Regions from separate parts of the Homo sapiens genome. Here region 1 is linked to region 2. The links come from fine-mapping of genetic effects on gene expression. Tissue or cell type: whole blood. Region 2 holds a variant in brackets; the other region holds the start of a gene. All regions are shown on one strand. Distances are between the middles of the regions.

What was found. PIP is the estimated chance that this variant, and not a neighbour inherited with it, causes the effect.
Region 1: LSR starts here. The variant in region 2 is fine-mapped to the expression of LSR in whole blood (TOPMed, PIP above 0.99).

What each region holds. Positions count from the first base shown.
Region 1 is chr19:35,245,553-35,253,728 of GRCh38, reverse strand. It overlaps LSR (lipolysis stimulated lipoprotein receptor), which reads right to left and starts at 4,727. Exons shown (of 10, transcript NM_205834.4): 1 at 4,598-4,727; 2 at 3,070-3,414. The coding sequence starts at 4,706. RefSeq lists silencers at 4,564-4,633, 5,044-5,123 and enhancers at 4,236-5,037, 5,038-5,840, 5,974-6,143.
Region 2 is chr19:35,223,324-35,231,499 of GRCh38, reverse strand. FAM187B (family with sequence similarity 187 member B) reads left to right here and starts at 2,761. Exons shown (of 2, transcript NM_152481.2): 1 at 2,761-3,541; 2 at 6,288-6,700. The coding sequence starts at 2,820. The coding sequence ends at 6,675. The variant T/C (reference allele first, on the strand shown) is at 4,398.

The DNA.
Region 1 (8,176 bases), 22 kb before region 2:
CCTCAATAACAGTAGGATGCTCATGGCTGAGCTGCCCACAGAAATTCAGGGCAAGCAAGCCTGGTGCCTCCTCTGAAACAGGACTGACATAGGCTCAGCCCCTGGAACCCTGCTTCCCATCGATCCTCTAGCAGAATGTGCTCCAGTTCCTGGCTTCTTGGGGTCTGCAAAGGGATGCTCCCTTCCCCGCTCTGCCCCATGCCCAACTTTAAATTCTTGTTTAAGACAGTGAACACACACTAAGACATGAGGTACGTGAGCCTTCATCCCTGGCACCCTGCCCCTCCCCTTCCTCTCTGCCTTCTAGGTTCTGTAAGGCCCAGGCCCAGGCCCTCCTCAAATCATATTCACAGCCCAAGTCATTCCATGTAGCACATCACCCAGTGCTATTTTCTTTTTTCTTTTTTTTTTAAGACGGAGTCTCACTGTTTCCCAGGCTAGAGTGCAGTGGCGCAATCTTGGCGCACCGCAACCTTCGCCTCCCAGGTTCAAGCGATTCTCCTGCCTCAGCCTCCCGAGTAGCTGGGATTACAGGCGCCCACCACCACGCCCGGCTAAATTTTGTATTTTTAGTAGAGATGGGATTTCACCATGTTGGCCAGGCTGGTCTCGATCTCCTGACCTCAGGTGATCCACCCACCTCGGCCTCCCAAAGTGCTGGGATTACAGGTGTGAGCCACTGCGCCCAGCCTATTTTCTTTTCATTTCAAGACAGGGTCTCACTCTGTCACCCAGGCTGGAATGCAGTGGCACGATCATGACTCACTGAAGCCTTGACCTCTCAAGCCCAAGCAATCCTCCCACCTCAGCCTCCTGAGCAGCCGGGACCACAGGCACATGCCACCATGCCCAGCTAATTTTTAAATTTTTAAAATTTTTGTAGACATGGGGTCTCATTTTGTTGTCCAGGCTGGTCTCAAACTCCTAGGCTCAAGTGATCCTCCTGCCTTGGCCTCCCAAAGTGCTGAAATTTACAGGCATGAGCCAATGCACCCAGCCTGGTGTTATTTTCTTTGCAACACTTAGTACTCTCTGACATTCTTATACCTTGACGGAGTCTTTTTTTTTTTTTTTTTTTTTGAGACAGAGTCTCACTCTGTCGCCCAGACTGCAGTACAGTGGTGCGATCTCAGCTCACTGCAACCTCTGCCTCCTGGGTTCAAGCGATTCTCATGCCTCAGCCTCCTGAGTAGCTGGGATTACAGGCATGTGCCACCATGCCTGGCTAATCTTTGTATTTTTAGTAGAGACGGGGTTTCACCATGTTGGCCAGGCTGGTCTGGAACTCCTGACCTCAGGTGATCCACCCACCTTGGCCTCCCAAAGTGCTGAGATTACAGACGTGAGCCACCGTGCCCAGACTTTGAAATTCTCATACTCTTTCTTTATCTGCTTATTTACTGCCAGTCTCACTCCACCAGAATGTCATCTCCTTGACGACAGAAACTTCAGCCATCCCAATCACCTCTATCCCCAGCACCAACGACACATAGTCGATGCTTGATAAATACCAAATGAATGAATGAATGACTGCCCCTTACTTAGTCCCAACAGGCACATCCTATCAGGAGGCAGCATTACAGTTAAGAACAAGGGGCCGGGCGCGGTGGCTCACGCCTGTAATCCCAGCACTTTGGGAGGCCGAGGCGGGCGGATCACGAGGTCAGGAGATCGAGACCATCCCGGCTAAAACGGTGAAACCCCGTCTCTACTAAAAATACAAAAAATTAGCCGGGCGTAGTGGCGGGCGCCTGTAGTCCCAGCTACTTGGGAGGCTGAGGCAGGAGAATGGCGTGAACCCGGGAGGCGGAGCTTGCAGTGAGCCGAGATCCCGCCACTGCACTCCAGCCTGGGCGACAGAGCGAGACTCCGTCTCAAAAAAAAAGAACAAGGTTCTCAGGGCTGCCTGGGTTCAAACCCCAGCTCCAGACTTTGACTTCCTATGCACCCATTTGAACAAGGTAACCTCTCTGTGCCTCAGCTGTCAGGAGGGTAGAGGAGAGGACTCAATGGGAGAATATGTGTGCAGTTCCTGGCATGTCACAGGCTTTCTCCATTAAGCTCTCTTGCCCCTGCAGTTCACTCCTGCCATCTCCTCTGTGAGTCCTCTGCGGACCACCCTAGGCAAGCAAAGGGATTAGGAGCTTGGCCACTAGACCCAAAGTGGCTGAGTTAGAATCCCAGCCCCGTTACCAGCTATGACACTAGGCAAGTCACTTTCTCTCTCTGGGCCTCTGTAAGATGACAATGATAGAATCTATTCAATTACTGTGTGGTCTGAGTTAATCCTTGGGAACCTGGATGAGAGCTTAGCACACAGTAGACCCTTTATAAGTTGTTACTTAGATAAATTTTACTTCTTACTGCTCGTGTTATTAATGATTATAGAACAAACCCTGGCCTCTTCTCTCCGTTACCCAGTTTTCTTTATCTTCAAGGACTTGAGAGTGTGTGTCGTGTTTGTCTCTCTCACTGCAATGTGGGCTCCACGAGGGAAGTGGTTTGATGATTTTGTTAACAGCTGTATTCCCAGGGCCCAGAACAGCACCTGGTATATGACAGGTACTCAAAAAATCTTCGTTATTAAATTAAAGAATGGAAGGATTAGCAGAAGGAAGAATAGTAGAATAGAATCGCTCCCTTTAGGCTGGGTATGGTGTCTCTCAGCACTTTGCGAGGCCAAGGCGGGCAGATCATTTGAGGTCAGGAGTTTGAGACCAGCCTGGCCAACATGGTGAAACCCCATCTCTACTAAAAATACAAAAATTAACTGGGCGTGGTGGCACGCACCTGGAGTCCCAGCTACTCGGGAGGCTGAGGCAAGAGAATTGCTTGAACCTGGGAGGTGGAGGTTGCAGTGAGCTGAGATCGCACCACTGCACTCCAGCCTGGAGTCCAGAGCAAGACTCCATCTTCAAAAAAAAAAAAAAAAAGAATTGCTCCCTTCAATGGTCCTTTCAGACACTGGCACTCAAGAGCTTTCAGATGGGGACTCCAGGTCCCGCACAAGGACGCCAGTCCCACCACCCGGGCAAGCCCAGCCTCATCCCCCTGCCCTGCCCAACATACTTCCGGTGATGGTAATCCTCCGGCCCTGGTAGTAATCTCCCAGGGTCACAGCGTTGCCCTGCTTGGTGGCCACGACCCTGACGGTGCGCACGCTGTCCTGGCACTCAACGTAGGGGTTGTAGCCTGGGTTCCCGGCTGCCAGCTGGGCATTGAGCTGGTTGTCGACGCTGGCCGGGGAGAAGGCATCGGCGATGCGGTCCCGGCAGAAAGACTTGTACTTCCAGATGACGATGGGTTGCGTGGGGGTCGAGGTCATCTGGTAGGTACAGGGCAGGGTCACAGGCTGGAAGAGGATCACCACGTGGTAGGGGTTGGACACGGTCACCTGGATGGCCCTGGCAGGAGCTGAGGGCAAGAGGAGAGACAGCAAGGGTTGCTGTGAGCTCAGGGAGGTGCTTCAACAGGAACGCCACCTGTCACCAGCTTGACACTCGCAAGTATGTGGTTTACAGAGTGCCTGGCACACATTGTTCCTTAATTGCCAGGACCAGTGAGGTAGCCACGATAATCATGCCCATTTTATAGACCCGTGGGGCTGAAGTGGCAGGTGCACGGTGACACGGCCAGTTTCCTTGGACTCGCCCGCCATCCCTCTTCCCAGCCTGTGGCCTCTGAACCACACCAGTCCCCTCTTCCCTTTGCCATTCACCCACAACAAGGGGCCTCTGTGTGGCCTGGGCAGGCAAGCCCAGATGGCCATGTTGATGCCCCCAGCGCCCAAGGCCCCACTTCAAAACCGACTACGAAGGATTCCAGGTTACCCGGGGCCTTTTGAATTTGGAGGGAAAACCATGGAGTTGTTTGCCTGAACTGCTTTGCCATGGAGGGACTAAAGCCCCCACAATATCTCCATCAGCCTCCCACCACCTCACCCTACTCTAAAGTCATTTCAAATGACTGAACCAAAAGTGTCTCGGGAAAGACCTCATCACCACCCAAATATCCCATCCAGGTGAAAGCCTGCCAGCAGAAGTCGGTTTCAAGTCCGTAAATCCATCCCACCAGACTCTTACGCACGTATAATCCGGAGCCCGCGGGAGGTGGGTGGGGTGCGGGGGATGGGGAGTCCCCAGTCCCACACCCACCCGAGGCCTAGGCATTGTTCCTTCGTCTCTGTCCCTCTAGGAAGCGTCTGATCCAGCCCTCCCGTGCCCTCTCCCCGTTACTCCAAAACTTAGAAATCCCCGGGTGCGCCCAAGTCCCATCCCGGCTTTTCTTTTCCCAGAGATCGGGCGGTCTTCCACTCCCTCCCCACAAAGAGTTCCATTCTCCCTGCCGCTCCGGGTCTCACCGTCCAGGGAGTTTCACTTCCTGCTATCTTCCAGATAAGGGCGCGGGGAGCGCTCCCCGGCACAAATGGGGAATTCCTCTCACTCCCGCGCGCAACAGATCGCCCAAGACCCAGGGGATCGGAAGGTCCCAGCCTCTGAGACCCCCGCTTCCCGCTTCCCGCCGCCTCCAACTCCATCCATCCCCCTCTACAGTTCCCTCCGGCGTTCCGCAGCGTCAGAGGCCCCGTGCCCCGTACCTGTGCACCAGGTGCTAAGCAGAAGCCACACGAAGACGACCGCGTCCCGGCCTGCGGCGGCCGGGTGGGAGCCCAGCCCTCTGGAGAGCCCGCCGGCCAACAGCGCCATCGCGGCCGTCTGGGCGCGTCTGGCCCGCGCGTCCCTTCCAAAGTACCTTAGGGGGCGCGGCGCGCACCAAGGCCAGGAGGGGTGCACGCTCCTCCCCTTCCCACTTCCGTTCCTTGTCCCTACTCCAAGTCCGTCCTGTTGCATTCTGGAAGTTTTAATGAGCGTAAACGACGTGGACAAAGGGCATGCTTTCAGATATGGGGGAGAAAGGTGCTTGACCCGCCGCGGTCCTCCGAGCCACACTCCACCCGCTGCGCGCTCCGGTGAATGGTTCGGCCCAGGTACACAAGGGTGGGAGCCGAGGGCTGGGCTTAGGGGTGAGCGGCGGGGAGGGGTTCCTCTGCCTCCCTCCCCGGAAGTGGGCTGACCCAGGTGCGCTCCGTCCCCCAGGGCCCGAACCAAGTGACTGGCCCGCTGGGAGGGCGCCTGCGGACCACAGGTCCCTTCCGGCCCCCATCTGCTCCGGCCAAACCAAGCGCACCGAGATCCATGCAACCGAGACCCACTTGGAGCGATTCACCTGTTGAGATAGGGCGGGTCCCGCCGCGCACCTGTTCCCTCCCTGCCCAAACCCCTCTCCCCGGCTGGCGATGGACCCGCCTAGGTGCGCCCTGCCGGGAGGAGCGAGTCTAAGCAAAGTCCTGGCTGGGAGAGGCTTGTTGGTGGCGCCTGACTTCTCCACTTCCACTGGGGTTCCTCCGGACCGGGTGGAGGGGGGGCGCTTCGGGCCTCCTGTGTCTCCCAGTTAGATGACCTGAGGAACCCTCTAAAGTCCCCGGAAGGGAAGCTCTGCCCCCTCAGGGATGCCCAAGGGGAATCAGGGCCAGGAAAAGTTGGAATTCCACTTCGGAAGTTTTCGCCACCTCCCCCACCCGTTCCCAACTTGTGGTTCGGCCCCTGGGCATCCCTAGCCCCCGGGTCAGCCCTCCGGAAATTCTGGCTCTTAAAGGGGCCGAGCGAAGGCGCGGGGCTTGGGACCGGTTTCCGCTTAGGAATTCCCGGAACGAGCCACCTGCGACCGAGGGCGGGGGCGCGGCGCGGCGATCAGCCTGCGCAGCGCTGGGCGTGACTCTGCTGTCTCCAGGTGGCGGCGAGGGAAAGCGCATCCTGGGGGAACCCTGGGCGCTTCCTCGCGTTAGACTCCCCCAGGTTGCCAACTGGCCAGTGGCTGGTTTCGGTACCCAGGCGTGCTTTGTTCTACTGGCCCTGTTAAAACTCAAGCCAGATCACGTCCACCTGCTCACAGCCCTCCTGTGGCTCCTCCTCACTCTCAGCAGAAACTGACCTTCCCCCTCTTATCTCACCTCCTCCCACTCTCTCTGGCTTACTCAGCTTCGGACACCCTGGCCTCCTCGCTGTTTCCAACTATACTTCTCACAGTCCTCAGAGCCATCGCCCGTGCTACTCCCTCTGCCAGAACACCCTTCCCGCAGATGTCCACATGATCTTCCTCCTCCTGTAGGACACCATTGCAGTGACACCTTCCCTGGCCACTTTTTATAAAATTTCAACCCGTTCACGTCCCTTCATCGTTTAAAAAAATATTTTTATGATAAAATATGCAAACTATAATATTTATCGCTTTAACCACTTCAAGTGTAAAATTCAGTGGCATTAAGTATATTCACAATGTCGTGTACCAATCACCACTCTTTATCCCCGAAACTGTTTCATCATCCCCAACATAAACTCTGTGACCATTAAACAGTAACTCCCCATTCCCTGCTACCTGTGCCCCTAGTAATTTCTATTCTACTTTGCTTACCAAATTGCCCATTCTAGGTGCCTCATATAAGTGGAATCGTCTAACATTTGTCCTGTGTCTAGTTTATTTCACAAAGAATAATGTTTTCAAGGTCCATCCATGTTGTAGTATGTCGAAGCCATGTAGCATGCAGTAAGATCAAAATTTCTTTTTACAGCGGACTAGTGTACCATTGTATGTATATGCTACGTTTTATTTATCCATTCATTTGTGGATGGACCTAGGTTGTTTCTACCTTTTGACTATTGTAAATAGTGCAGCTGTGAACACTGGTGTACAAATATCTGCTTTCATTTCTTTTGAATATATGCCTAAGAATGGAATTGCTGGGTGACTTGGTAGTTCTATTTTTAACCTTTTGAGGAACTGCCAAACTGTTTTCCCCAATGACTGCACTATTGTACATTCCCACCAGCAATGCACGGAGGATTCCAATTTCTCCACATCCCCACCAAAACTTATTATCCATTTTCTTGATTATGGCCATCCTGGTTAGTGTGAAGTGGCATCTCATTGTGGTTGTAATCTGCATTTCCCCAATGACTAACGATGTTGAGCATATTTCCACGAATTTATTGTCCATTAGTATATCTTCTTTGGAGAAGTGTCTATTCAAGTACTTTGCCCATTTTTGAATTGGGTTGTTTGTTTTTTTGTTGTCAAGTTGTAGGAGTTCTATATATATTTTGAATATTAATCCCTTGTTAGATATATGATCTGCAAATATTTTCTTCCATTCTCCAGGTTTTTTCACTTTCTTGATAGTGTCCTTTGGTGCACAAAAGTTCTTAATTTGATGAAGTTCAATTTACCTACTATTTTTTCTTCCTTGTACTTTTGGTATCCTATTTATGCAGTTGTTGCCAAGTCCAATGTGATGAAGATTTTCAACAATATTTTCTTCTAAGAGTTTTATAGTTTTAACTCTTAAATTGAGTCTTTGAGCCACTTTATTTTATTTCATTTTATTTTTTGAGACTGAGTCTCACTTTGTCGCCCAGGTTGGAGTGCAGTGGTGTGATCTCCGCTTACTGCAACCTCCACCTGCCGGGTTCAACCGATTCTCATGCCTCAGCCTCCCGAGTATTTGGGATTACAGGTGCATGCCACCACACTGGGTTAATTTTTGTATTTTTAGAAGAGATGGGGTTTCACCATGTTGGCCAGGCTGGTCTCGAACTCCTGACCTCAAGTAATCTACCTGCCTTGGCTTCCCAAAGTGCTCACATAGGTGTGAGCCACTGCACCCGGCCTGGGCCATTTTAATTTTAGTATGTGGTAGAAGGGTCCAACTTCATTTTTTTGCATATGGATATTCAGTTTTCCCTCTACCATTTGTTGAAAACACTGTCCTTTTCCCATTAAGTGGTCTTGGCTTCCTTGTCAAAAATCAATTAATCATATATGTGAGGGTTTGTTTCTCGGTTCTGTATTCTATTTCATTGATCTATACGCCTATCCTTATGCAAGTACCATATGTTTTAATTACTATAGCTCTGTAGTAAGTTCACAGATGGAAAGTGTGAGTCCTCTAACTTTATTCTTCTCTTTCAGTATTGTTTTGGTTATTGGGGGCCCCTTAAAACTCCATATGAATTTGAGGATCTGCTTCCATTTCTTTGGGAAAAGACGTTGGAATTTTGATCAGCATTGTGTTGAATCTGTAGATTGTTTTGGGTAGTATTGACATTTTTAATGTTAAGTC
Region 2 (8,176 bases):
CCCAACTTTGTTCTTCAAGATTGTCTTGGTTATTCTTGGCCCATTATATACAAATTTTGGAATCGGTTTGTAGTTTCCACCCCAAAACTCTTATTTTTTTTTAATTGGGACTTTATTGAATCTAAAGATAAATTTGGGGTAAATCAATATATATTCAATATTTAGTCTTCCAATCCGTGAATGTGGCAAATACTTCCATTGTTTAGTCTTTCTTTAATTTCTCCCAATAATGTGAAGTTATTAATGTAGAGGACTCACATATCTTTTATTATATTTATTCCTAGGTATTTAATTTTTTCATACTATCCTATAGTAATCTTTTAAGTTTCATCTTTTAATTCTTTGTTGCTGGTATATAAATCATATTTAATATATGACCTTATATCTAATTTTTTGCTTGTATCTTACCTCCAGTAAAATGCTGAATGGAAAAGTTGATGGCAGAAATACTTGTGTTATTCTTAGTATTTTACTATGAAGTATAATTTAGCCCTAGGTGTTTTTGTTTGTTTGTTTGTTTTTTGTTTTTTTTTTGAGACAGGGTCTCACTCTGTTGCCCAGGCTGGAGTGCAATGGCGCAATCTCAGTTCACTGCAACCTTCGCCTCCTGGGTTCAAATGATTCTCCTGCCTCAGCCTCCCAAGTAGCTGGGACTACAGGCACCCACCATCACACCCGGCTAATTTTTGTATTTTTAGTAGAGATAGGGTTTCGCCATGTTACCCTAACTGGTCTCGAACTCCTGACTTCAGGTGATCCACCCGCCTCGGCCTTCCAAAGTGCTGGGATTACAGGTGTGAGCCACTGTACCCGGCCTGTCCTAGGTTTTTAATAGAAACACTTTATCTTCTTAGAAAATTTCCTTTTGTTCCTAGTTTGCCAAAAGTTTTGAGCCATAAATGAATGTTGAGTTTTATCAGATGCATTCTCTGTATCTACTGAGATAATAATATGGTTTTTCTCCTTTATTCTGTTAATGTGGTGAATTACATTAATTGATGTGCAAATATAACCCAAATTTGCCGTCCTGAAATAACCCAATTTGGTCTTTATATTTATCCTTGTGTAAAGAAAATCACTGGAATCAATTTGCAATATTTTCTTTGGGATAGTGTGTCTGTGTTGACAAAAGAGATTGACCTGAGGTTTTTCTTTGTTGTAATGTCCTTATAAGGTTTTGAGATAAGGTGATGCAAGTCTCATAGAAATCTTCCATCTTTTTCTATGTTGGGAAAAGTCTGGAAGATCATTTAATTTATTTATTTATTTATTTATTTATTTGAGGCAGTGTCTCTGTCACCCAGGCTGGAGTGCAGTGGCGCAATCTGCACTCACTGCAACCTCTGCCTCCTGGGTTCAAGCTATTCTTCTGCCTCGGCCACCTGAGTAGCTGGGATTACAGATGCCCGACACCATGCCTGGCTAATTTTTTGTATTTTTAGTAGAGATGGGGCTTCACCGTGTTGGCCAGGCTGGCCTCGAATTCCTGACCTCAAGTGATTCTCCCATCTTGGCCACCCAAAGTGCTGGCAAGTGCTGGCATTACAGGTGTGAGCCACCGCCTGAGAAGGTGTTTAGAAAAGGGGATGGAAGGAAAGGGAGCAACTGAGAAAAATATTTGTTGAAGATGTATTGAGTCATGCAGATGGCTGAGGGAAGAGACGGGGACCAGCATGTGCAATGGTTCTGGGGCAAGAGCCCCTCTGCCTGCCTGACAGATTCAGGGAACAGCGGGAGGCCAGCGTGGTTGGAGGGTAGGGAGTAGGGGGAAAGGTGCAGGAGGTCAGAACAGTAACCAGAGATAAATTTTTTTAAATTTTTATTATTTTTTTTGAGATGGAGTTTCACGCTTGTCACCCAGGCTGGAGTGCAGCGGTGCGATCTCGGCTCACTGCAACCTCCGTCTCCCAGGTTCAAGTGATTCTCCTGCCTCAGCCTCCTGAGTAGCTGGGATTACAGATGCCCGCCACCACACCCAGCTATTTAGTAGAGACGGGGTTTCACCACGTTGGCCAGGCTGGTCTTGAACTCCTGACCTCAGGTGATCCGCCCGCCTCAGCCTCCCAAAAGTGCTGGGATTACAGGCATGAGCCACCGAGCCCAGCCCGAGAGGATTTGTTTACTGCTTTATCCCCAGTGCTAAGAAGTGTGCCCAGAACATAGTAAGAGTTCAGGAAATATGTGTTGAGTGTTCACATGTGACACCTTCATGCTCTTATTTCATCCCTGGGAATGTAGTCTCACCCCTGGGAAAGGAAGCGGGGCAGGTAGTAGAGAAAACTCTGAATAGACAAATTAAGTTTGCTCCTTTCCCAGCAAAATGGAGGGCTTGGAATAGAAATTAAATATGGTCAGCGGGGCACAGTGGCTCACGCCTGTAATCCCAACACTTTGGGAGGCCAAGGTGGGAGGATGGCTTGAAGCCAGGAGTTCGAGACCAGCTTGGGCAACATAACAAGACCCCGTCTCTACAGAAAAAATTTTAAACTAGCTGGGCATGGTTAGCATGCACCTGAAGTCCCAGCTACTCAACAGGCTGAGGTGAGAGGATTACTTGATTCCAGGAGTTTGAGGCTGTAGTGAGCTGTGATTGCAGCACTGCCTTCCAGCCTGGGTAAAAGAGCGAGTCCTTGTCTGAAAAAAAAAAAAAAAAGAAAAACAGTGTTGTCAGCTTGTCACAAAACAAAAGGGGATGGTGACCTCACACACACATGTGGTAGCTGCAATTCATCCCACTGCCCAGGGCTGAGGCCAGAGTTCATGGGTGACCTCACAATGTTCGGGGTGGCACCAGCCCACTGCCACAGCCCCAGTCCACCATGCCACCCATGCTGTGGCTGCTGCTCCACTTTGCTGCCCCGGCACTGGGGTTCTACTTTTCCATCAGCTGCCCCAGTGGTAAGCAGTGCCAACAGGCCCTACTCTCAGGCAATGATATTCTCCTGTATTGCAACTCCTCGGGGGCGCACTGGTACTATTTATTCACACAAGGCAAGAAGGGCAGGCTCACCAGCCTCACCAATATTTCCAATATGGAAATAATGCCCGAGGGCAGCCTTCTCATTAAAGATCCATTGCCCTCCCAGACGGGCCTCTACCACTGCTGGAACAAGAATGGCCGCCAAGTGGTGCAGTATGAAATTGACTTTCAGGATGTCACCACCCTGCATATAACACACAAGGACCTGGGTCAGAGGCCCCTGCAGAACGAGACCCTGCATTTGGGCAGCAAACAGCTCATTTTTACCTGGTGGGAGCCCTGGCAGGACTGCAACCGCTGTGAGGAGCCGGGCGAGTGTAAACGCCTGGGGTACCGCTACATTGAGGAGCCTCTGGAGGAAGCCATGCCCTGCTGGCTCTATCTGGGAGAGGTGCTGGTGTGGTCTAGCCGCTTGCGGCCTGAGCTGCAGGTGGAAGCCTGCCACGTCCAGTGCACCAATAACACACAGTTAAGGGTGGATTACGTCATTTTTGACAACTTCAGGCTCGATGAGAAGACAGAATTTGTGTGGCTCGACTGTCCCTTAGGATCCATGTACAGGTGATGGAATCCCTGCCTCTGGCCCCTACCCAGATTCTTCCGGTCAGGGGATCCTTCCTGGTAATATGTGCAGAGGGATGAGTGGGCGTTCTTTGCAGTTCAGCCACGTAGTGGTCATCAGGACAGTGCCAGGCCCTGCTCTTAAACAGTCCGAGGGGGACACAGCCCAGGGTGGTGCGAGCCGGGATGGGAGAAGCCCAGGCAGACAGATGGGGCTGTGATGGGGGAAGCCCAGGAAGCTTAGGGGCTCCAACAGGCCCCTGCTTCATCTGGAAAGGTCAGTGAGACCTTGGAGGAGAGGCTGGTGCCCCCGGGGCTTCCCATCAAGGCCTGCCTCCCAGAACTCACACTCATCTTCTTACTTCCTGCCAGGAGCCTCTGGAAAATAGCCCCTTCCCCTCCTCTCCCCCAGTCCACCTGCCCCTTAATAAGAAATGCAGGCTGGGCGCGGTGGCTCATGCCTGTAATCCCAGCACTTTGGGAGGCCGAGGTGGGTGGATCACCTGAGGTCAGGAGTTCGAGACCAGCCTGGCCAACATGGTGAAACCCCGTCTCTACTAGAAATACAAAAATTAGCCAGGTATGGTGGCACGTGCCTGTAATCCCAGCTACTCAGGAGGCTGACGCAGGAGAATCACTTGAACCCGGGAGGCGGAGGTTGCAGTGAGCCGAGATCACACCACTGCACTCCAGCCTGGGCAACATCACGAGACAACTCTGACTCAAAAAACAAAAAAACAAAAAAACCCCAGAAATCCATTGTCTCACCCTTCTGGAGGCCGTAAGTCTGAAATCAAGGTGTCAGTAGAACCACGCTCCCTCTCAGTCCCTCTGAGTGAGCTGGGCAGAATCCTCC[T/C]TTTTTCTAGCTTCTGGATGCAGTCAGAGATCCCGGTCTTCTCTGGCTTGTGGCTGCTTCTCTCCAATGCCCGCCTCCATCATCACTTGGCATTCTTCCTGGGTGTCTGTGTCCCTGTCTCTCTTTTCCTTTTCTTAAAAGGACACCGGTCAGATGGGATTGAGGGCCCACCTTATTCCAATATGCTCTCATCTCAACTGATTATATCTGCAATGATCCAATTTCCAAATAATGTTACATTCTGAGGTTCTGGGAAGGACATGCATTTTGCGGGGGCCACTGTCTAACTCAGTGCAGAGGTCTTGCCAGCCCCTGGCCACACAGGGTCATTGTGATGTGTTAAGGGGACTAAAGACTGTAGAGTGCCTGCCATAGCATCCAATAAGAAGTTCCACAATGTACCTAGCTGGGAATGCAAGCTTTTATGATATTGTCTGTGGAATATCCTCTCTGTTCTTCCACCACGCTGGGTGTGTCGGTGCCTGATTCATTTCTCCACTAAACACGTGTTCACTGCATATTTATATGCCAAGCTCCATTCTAGGGACCTGGGAAACAGTGAAGAACACAACCAACGGAGATTCTTGCCCTTGTGGCGCATAAATATATAGTTTTATTATTATTATTGTTATTATTATTAGAGACAGGGTCTTGCTCTTTCACCCTGGCTGGAGTACAGTGGCACAATCACAGCTCACTGCAGCCTCAATTCCCCGGGCTCAGGTGATTCTCCCATCTCAGCCTCCACAGTAGCTGGGACTACAGACATGCACTACCACACCCGGCTAAGTTTTTAAGTTTTGTAGAGATGAGGTCTCACTTTGTTGCCCAGGCTGAGCCCAAACTCCTGGGCTCAAGTGATCCTCCCACATCGGCCTCCCAAAGTGCTGGGATTACAAACCTGAGCCACTGTGCCCGACCTATAGTATTTTGGATGGTGACGGAGCAGGAAGGGATGCTGGGAATAGGGGAGGTTAAAAGTGTCAAGTGGTGGGGTCAGGGAAGGCTCCTCTGAGAAGCTGCCATTTCAGCCCAGACTGAAAGGAGGCGAGGAAGCCCTGGGGACAGAGGGAACAGCCAGGGCCAAGACTGCACCCAGCATGTCAGAGGAACATCTAGGAGAGCAGCGTGGCTAGGCAGAGTGAGTAAAGGGGAGAGTGAAGGAGATGAGACCAGACAGGCAAAGGCAGGTGGACAAATCATTTAAGGAGTGCCCTTGCTAACTCCTCCAAATAACCTTATGAGGTACAATCATTACTCTCCATTTTTTTTGGTTTGTTGTTTTCTTTTTTGGGACAGGGTCTTGCTCTGTCACCCAGGCTGGAGTGCAGTGCTGTGACTGGCTCACTGCAGCCTCAACCTCCTGGGCTCAAGTAATCCTCCCACCTCAGCCTCCTGAGCAGCCAGGACCACAGGCGCATGTCAGCATGTCCAGCTAATTTTTTAAATTTTTGCAGACATGGGTTCTTGCTTTGTTGTCCAGGCTGGTTCTGAACTCCTGGGCTCAAGCCATCCTCCTTGCCTTTGCCTCTGAAAGTGTTGGGATTACAGGTGTGAGCCACCAAGCCTGGTCTAGACTCTTAGTTTTACATAAAGAAATGGAAGTTCAAAGAGCTGGAGGCATTTGCCCAGGTCACCCAGCCAGTAAGGGGTGGGGCCAGTAAGGGGTGGAGCCAGGAAGAGGGGAGCCAGTAAGGGGTGGGGCCAGTAACGGGTGGAGCCCTGGGAGCCCCCAGCTGTGCCTCCTCCACCCCACTGTTGACGGCTGCACAGTGCTCCGTGGGGGGTGGCGAGGAGGGGGACTGGGCGGTGCTTTATTTTCTGTTCCTCAGGGAGACGTCGGTCCCTCCTTTCTCCCTGGCCCTGCACCTGACCTTGTCCTCCTCGCAGGCCCGTCAACTGGCGTGCCAACGACACCCCCCTGACGTGGGAGAGCCAGCTCTCCGGCCAGGACTTCACCACCTTTCTGGACCCCTCCACCGGCGGCAGGCAGCTGCAGGTTTTCCAGCCGGCCGTCTACAAGTGCTTCGTGCAGCAGGAGCTCGTGGCCCAGTTCAAACCCGCCGCCAGTCTGGAGACGCTGGAGGCTCAGTGGAGAGAGAACGATGCCCAGTGGCGGGAGGCAAGGAAGGCCCTGCGGGGCAGGGCGGACTCCGTGCTCAAGGGGCTGAAGCTGGTGCTGCTCGTGGTCACCGTCCTGGCCCTGCTGGGGGCGCTGCTCAAGTGCATCCACCCTTCCCCGGGCAGGAGAAGCACACAGGTGCTGGTGGTGAAATAAAGCGAGCCCCCGGTGCACAAGCGGACCCGGCCTCCGGTTCTCTCTTAGCCACAGCCGCCCCTTCTGTCACTTCCGCCCCGGTGCCCCGTAGCCCAGGGTGACCGAGCTCTTCCCTGGGTCAGGTGCTGCTCTGTTAACTCATTAGTAATTTCCATAGAACAGATGAGGAAACTGAGGCTGGTGATTCTAGTTCAAACCAGGTTGCCTGTCCCAAGCCCTGTGTTCTTCAGAAGGAGGGAGAGATGGAACCAGGCCATTCTTGGGGTGTCTCCCTAAAGGTGGTAACTCATAGCCTCCTCACTCATCCCATTCCCCCAACTACAAGATGGGGGATATGAGCAGGACACCTCTAGGCTCCCCAGATCTGCCCTGGGCCCTGCTGTCTTTTCCTGCCCATCCCTTGCCCACCCTCCCCACTGTGCCCAGGCCTTCAGGCCCAGCCACCACTCCCCAAGTCAGAGGCACTGCCAGACACGCGCCACTTTTCCAGGCTCTTGTGGTGGAGTGAGGCCCCTCAGGCCCTTGGAAGGGGAGACAGGCCCTTTTGCTGGTACAAGGTGCCAGGCCTGGCTCAGCTGACCTGCAGGAATCACCAGGCCTGACTGTTCCCAGAAATCACACACTGTTCAGCAGAGTGCAAGAGTGAAAAATAATTCATGCCATTAAAATTCATTGCCCTAATAGTGCAGTGAAGCCATGACTGGACAGAGATGAAACTCTCCCAGAACAGAACCTCTGCCCCCAGGATAGGGCAGGGCTCATCCTTCGTGTACCAGACACTGTTGCCAAAACACTTAAGGCTTCATGTGGTGCCCAGATGCTCAAAGATTCCTGCAGAATGAGGGAGCGTTCCCTGAGAACTAAAGAGGCCTCCCTGGGAACCAGAGGTAGACAATAATAATGATAATCATAGCAAACATTTGGGGACTTCCTGGTGAGGTCAAAACTCAAACCCTTTGTAAGTGCTATGTCCCCACGATCACCCAAGAGGCTGGTGCTACTGTTAACCTTGTTTTGCAGCTGAGAACATCAAGACTCAGAAGCTTCAAGCAACTTGCCTGAGGTCACACAGTGAGCTTGGGAAGGGGCCAGTGGTTGGAAGGTGAAAGGAGACCTGAAGCGCCCACCCCAGGTCCCAGGGAGCCCCCCAATGCCTGCAACCCATAGAAGCCCCCATTGTATGGGAGCTGGAGGTGGGACAGAGAGAGTCAAGCACGGGTCCCACACTCAAGGGGTTTGTTCTTCGCAGCACTGAAGTCTCACAACCCATAGCAGAGGCTGTCAGTGCCCCAGTGCTCCAAGGCTGTCAGGGCAGCTCCTAAGGTGACCCCAGTGACTTCCCACCTCCTGGTGTCCATGCCTTGTATGATCCCCTCTCCTCCAGTGTGGACAGACCTGTGACCTTGCATCTAACCAATAGCACACAGTAAAGGTGTTGAGCTGTCACTCCCTAGCTTGCCTTATGTTATCTAAGACTCTGTCTTAGAAGATCAGAGGGAGG